2 separate regions of the Homo sapiens genome follow, and region 1 is linked to region 2. Evidence: fine-mapped expression QTL. A gene starts in region 2. The other region holds a variant in brackets. All regions are shown on one strand. Distances are between the middles of the regions. Region 1 overlaps LRP1 (LDL receptor related protein 1). Region 2 holds the start of LRP1 (LDL receptor related protein 1).

Region 1 (2,898 bases), 22 kb before region 2:
CTGGCAATACCCTGCCCCTGCTCCCCCTATCCACCCTTCTCTTGGCAAGAGAGAGAAGGAAGAAACCTGCAGAGATCTGATGCCGCTATCCCAGGTGCAGCTCCACAATCAGCCCCCCCAGCCTCAGGATGTGGCCTGGATTCCCTCCCAATTCCGGGAAGGAAGGCAGAGAGATCATCCCTGCTCTCAGATATTTACCCTTGGCCGGTCTCCCTTCCACCTCCCCAAAGGCCAGGCAGGGCCCCACTCAGCAGGCCGGTGAGGAGTTGGCAAGAACTGGAGTCCTCGGCCTGCCTGGCCTCCCCTTTGGTATTTTTGCAGCTGGAGACTATTAGTTGCAAGCAAAAATCCTTTGTTATCCAACCCCCTGCACCACATTATTTTTCTCTCTCCTAAAGTTCAGATTCCTCTGCCTGCCCCACCACACACACACGCACATACGCACGTATGCACACACAAATGCACGCACAATCACACACACACACATACACTTGGCCACCACTCCAAGGCCAGTGTAGAGAGATGGGCTCAAAGGGAGAGGAGGAACCTTGCCTCCAGGGCTGCCCTATAGGCAGTATCTGGGCCACCCCTCTCTGTCTTATGAATTGGGGTCCAGGTGGAGTCCTGGGCTTCAGCCCAGAGATCCTGAGCATTCTGGCTCCACCAACCCTGAGGGGAGCCGTCCCCTTGTCGCCCAGCCTTCTAAGGGCCAACCACCTGAGCGCACCTTCTGAAGAGGCTCTGGCCAAAGGCCGAAAATCCTGAGGACAGGAGAATCTCAAATAAACCAAAGGGGAGAGAGGGAGGCTGTGTTGTGGAAGGAGTTGGGGGTGGTCTAGGGGCAGAGGGGCAGGGGATTCCAGCATGAAGAGGGAGGCTAGGAAGCAGGGAAGAGGTGCAGGAGTCAGACGAGAGACCACAGCTGCCCATTATGGCACAGAGGACTTTCAGTTCCAGGCCCCAGAATAGACCTGGTGTCCTGGCACCCCATCCCACTGCTCAGCATCTGCACTCACTACAACTCCAGCTTTTCTCAACTTCTCCATCATTCCCATTGTTCAAGAGGCATTTCCATACATGGTGGCTGCTTTCCCAAACACA[T/C]GGGACCCACCCCATGCCCAAAAAGACTCTAGCTTCAGCTGCAGGATTCTAGTCACCTGCTCTAAAATAAGGAAATCGGAAGGAAGGAAGAAGCCTTTATGTCCTGAGAAAATGTCACCCAACACATCTACACACCCAAGAGTGTATACACATCCAAAGAGGTCCCTGGACCTCTATCCACATCCCCAGGGAGCACACTAGATTCTGGCCCTTGTTCCAGGAACCTCCCCACCTCTCCTCATATCATTCTGCTCTGCCCTGGGTCCAACTGGGCCCTAGACACTGACAGCCTGAGTTTGAATTCTGGTTCTGTCACCTTCCAACTGAGGCTATGAGCAAGTTACTTAATGCCTCTGAGTCTCTGTTTCCTCATTTGTAAAACTGGATGGTACACTAACTGCACTTAGCATGAGGCCTGGTGCATGATAAACACTCCCCACATGGGGGCTGCGGTTCCCACCATGTCCTCCCCTCCCTGAACCCATCCTTTCCCACCTTTTCCACCAAGTCGCCCTCTGTGCCTCCAGCCAGAGCCCTGTGGCCTCCTGACTCTAGGTGGGCCCTCCAGGTGGGCCATTTGGGGCTAACACCTACTACTCGTCAAGACTCGGCTCAGGCTCCCAGAAGGAAGCTTGCCCTATTAGAAGGAAGTTTTCAAGGCCAGGCTCAGTGGCTCACGCCTGTAATCCCAGCACTCTGGGAGGCTGAAGCAGGTGGATCATGAGGCCAGGAGATCGAGACCATCCTGGCTAACATGGTAAAACTCTGTCTCTACTAAAAACACAAAAAATTAGCCAGGCGTGGTGGCGGGCACCTGTAGTCCTAGCTACTCGGGAGCCTGAGGCAGAAGAATGGCGTGAACCCGGGAGGCAGAGCTTGCAGTGAGCCAAGATTGCATCACTGCACTCCAGCCTGGGCGACAGAGTGAGACTCCATCTCAAAAAAAAAAAAAAAAAAAAGAAGGAAGTTTTCCTGTTACAGGCTCCATAGGCCTCTGGAGCTTCTTTGATCATGGCCTCTTCACCTGACTGCAAATACTGTAAGGAGAGCGCTGCCTTTTGTCTTTGTCTCAGGCGTCTGACACACATGTATTGATCCATTGAACAAATATTTATTGAAGACTGAGTCTGTTGTTCTAGAGCTGGGACATCATTTTCCCCCTCTCTTCTACTGCCAGGATCCTGCCTCTCTGGCCTTGGGACACTCCAAGACAGTGGGAGAGGACAGTCTGTCTAGTAATCCTACTCAGGGATCTCGCCTGGGCCTGGGAGAGATGGCGGAGAGTCTGAGGACTTCGAAGGTGGGAAGGAGACCTCCTGGCGAGCCTGGCAGAAGCTCTGCTAAACGATGTGGCCTCATGCTCCTTGTTTCCTGCTGGGTCCCGACTTCAGCTCTTCCTTCCACCAGCCAGTCTGGAGCTTAGCCGTGTTGTGTCACCTCGTTCTCCTGGGCTCTCTTCCTGCTCCTGCCTGTGATTCCAGCCTGTGGTTATGTCCTGCTACCTTCCCCTGCCTGGCTTAGGTCCCCAAGAGGCATTTCGACCTAGATCCCAGGGATGATGCCTGGATTCCACTCAGCCCATCTTAGGGTCTTCCCTCTATTGAGAAATCCTTGCCGGGCTCTAAAACACATCTCTCTTGCTTAAGTTACTTCCTTTGGCTTGAAAACAGCAAGGGGAGTGCTGGGAGCAGTCTGGGTGGAGAGGCAATTTCAAGGAGACAGCGGGGGAGGAGAGGACAGGGCTGGATCTGGGCCGGGAGACACAGGGCTGGCCCGGGCCAGGAGAGAGGAGGAGCA
Region 2 (2,898 bases):
CAGTTCTAGCCTAAGCCTAACTCTGCAATATACAAAGTGTGTGTGTATGGGGTTTTGGGCTTGGAGGGGTGCAGGGAATAAACAGATTTACTAAAGGAGTGTGGGGGCACAGCCATAATCCCCATCCAACCTCCAACTCTCCTTCCAATCCAAACTGTGATGAAGCCAGAAGTCAGGAAGAAGGCAGCCTCCCCCACCCTCCTACCCCAGCATTCCAGGCCATTCTCCAGTCCCCTTCCCCAGTGATGACATCTGACGTTTTTTCATCTCAAAGCTCCCAGGAATTAAGAAGGAAAATTCAAAGTCACATAGTATGGCGAGCTCCCCCTCTCTGCCCCCCAACACAGCCCTACCCCAGGCTACTGACAGAGGCCCTGAGAGGGGGAAGAGCCTACTTCAGCACCCAGGCCTCCAGCCGGGGCTCTGGGGTCGATTCCACGCCCAAGCAGGGGGCCCTCCCTCTCCCCACCCACAGCCTTCCCGGGCCTGCCTGCCCTCTGCCCGGCAGGGTACCCCTGGCCTGGCTCCCCTTTCGAGCTACAGAGGCCAGTGCAAAAGCCACCCCCCCCACCCCCACCCCCTTTTGCAGCCGAACATTGCAAATCCGGATTCCTTCACAATTCAGATGGGGGGTGGGGGGTTGTGAGGATGTAGGGGAGGCGGAGGCCCTCCCCGAACAGAGATAGGAAAAGAAGGCCTCTCCTCCCCAGGATCAGAAAAATGGGGAGCCCTCTTCTCTCTACCCAGGCCTCTGGTCTTTGTTTGTGCTGGGGGGCCCCGGAAGCATCATTTGCCCAGGGCCCCCATCCCCCAAATCGGACCCCATCCCCGCCCCCAGTCGGGCCGCTGCTGTGTCAGCTGGACTGGGATAACAAAAGGCACCCCCTCCCGCGTCTCCCTTCCCCATCCGTATGCAGGAGTGGGGGCTGGGGAGAGGGTGCCCCCAGGGGTCCAAGGGGGACGCGGAATCTCACTCACCGTCGATAGCCGCCGCGACCAGAGCTGAGAGCAGGGGCAGCAGCAGGAGCAACGGCGGGGTCAGCATGGTGTGGGCTGATGCAAGCAGCAGCCCCTTCCCCTCTGGTCCTGCTACTTCTCTCCTTCACCCCCCCCAGTTGGGGGGTCCCCCTTTTCCTCCTTTCCCCCTCCTCCTTCTCTGTTCTTATTCTTTCCTTCGGCAAAGCGCACCAGGGGCGTGGGTGAAGAGGTAGAGTTCCGAGCCCCTTGGGGAGGGCCTGCTGACGGGGGTGCGCCCCCTGCCCCGAAATCCAAACCCTTCACCCCACCCCCCCGCTTCACTCCTCGCTGCTCTTTCCCCCTCCCCGGGCGAAGCTCACAGCCCCATCTCGGAGCCGCCTCCGGCTGCAAAAATGCACAATTGGGAGGAGGCGGGGAGGGGGGGTGGGGGGCGTGGACCGGGTAGGGGAGCCTTTGGAGGGGGCTTGATGGAGCTCTGGGGGCTCCCCTTGTTTCCGCCTCCTCAGTGCATGGGCCTGGAGCTCGCACCGCTGTTCCCCGGACTGAAGTGCCGAGGGGGGGGCTGATGGGGGAGAGGGAGGGGACGGGTTGAGGAGGGAGGGAGGGAAGGGGCGGGGAAAGAAAAAAGGTTGGTGGGTGGGGGGAGAAAGAGCTACGCGGCAATCCAGTGAGTGCGCATGCGCCGATTTGACGCGCTGCCCGGGGGAGGGCGACGCGGACCCGCGACAGGGTTCGGAGTTCTGGAAAGCGGTCCAAGAGTGAGGGTCCCGGGGACTCGCTGGCTAGTTTGGGGCCTGGGGCGCCCTCTCCCCTGGCTGGGCCCTCCTCCCTGGTGCTCCAGAGAGCAGAAGGGGTCGAGGGTGGGATTGGGCAGTGGGCGGAGAGCTGAGCGGCTCCCCTTTGAAACTCAGTGTCATACTCTAGGATTTCAGGCTCCCTCCGGGGGCGTCCGGGACTCAGTGGTCTGGGCCGAGGCTCGATTTTCTAGGGGAACCCTGAAGGTGCCTCCTCTGCCCGGGGTGGGGACAGGGACCGCCAGTCCGCGGGGAAGGTGCAGGGAAAGGCTGAGCTTTGATTTGGAGACTTTGGAAGACCGGACTGGGATTGGGGCCTGCGAAGGAGGGGGCGGGGTTGGGGAGGGACCGCGAGGACCCGCCCCCACCTCGCTCCCGGGCTCGGAGTAAACAGGGACACCCGAGGGGACACGCCGGAGCTTGTCCGCCCGCGTGGGGCTCGGGGATGGAGCCCACCTTAGTACCCGCCCGCCCTGCTCGCCCAGCCCTAGGCGCGGGAGGGGCAGGCCCTGGTTTGGAGGGAGGTGAGTCACCAGCGGGTGGGGTTGAGGAAAGGCCACCCCCTTTCGCCCAAGAAGTCGGGGCTCATTTATTTTTCTGTTTTTTTTTTTTTTTTTTTTTTTAATACCTTCTGACTGGCTTGCCATCAAGTTAGGGTTTTAGATTCCGAGCGCCAGGATTTGGAATAAGATGAGGGACTCTGGACCTTCGTTTCCAGGCCTCGGGTTCCAAGGAGGTGTCTGCTGAGCGCCGGACCTTTGTCCCCAGGCTCAGCCCACACGGGAATGATACTTTGCAGAAGGCAGGCGCCAGGCGGTTCCCAGGGGCCAGTGAACGTGCTTTTGGTCACTGCCCCCTTCTGGGCGGCGTTTTATGGCTGTTACCTTAGTGTCTGACTTTCTAGGTGTCTGCATGTCAGAGTTCAAGGAGCGGGGCAGACGACGTCGGCTGCCAAAAATTGACGCTGGAGAGGAGGGACTGTTCCCCCTTTTACGTTCTAGTTACGGAAAAGTCCCCACTCCAGTCTGTCCTTGGCAGAAACAGGAGCAGCACGAAGGACTTGCCTCCTAATGACAGTGAGCTCAACCTTTAGCTTCTTCCAGCCGGCTTTGCTCAGCGCGGTGGC

What was found. PIP is the estimated chance that this variant, and not a neighbour inherited with it, causes the effect.
Region 1: its variant is fine-mapped to the expression of LRP1 in whole blood (INTERVAL, PIP above 0.99).

What each region holds. Positions count from the first base shown.
Region 1 is chr12:57,149,352-57,152,249 of GRCh38, reverse strand. The region is part of intron 6 of LRP1 (LDL receptor related protein 1); the gene reads right to left. Among named protein-coding and RNA genes, the nearest start is that of LRP1-AS, 3.2 kb to the right of the region's middle. RefSeq lists an enhancer at 2,304-2,898. The variant T/C (reference allele first, on the strand shown) is at 1,102.
Region 2 is chr12:57,127,112-57,130,009 of GRCh38, reverse strand. LRP1 (LDL receptor related protein 1) reads right to left here and starts at 1,527. Exons shown (of 89, transcript NM_002332.3): 1 at 979-1,527. The coding sequence starts at 1,045. RefSeq lists an enhancer at 1,867-2,520.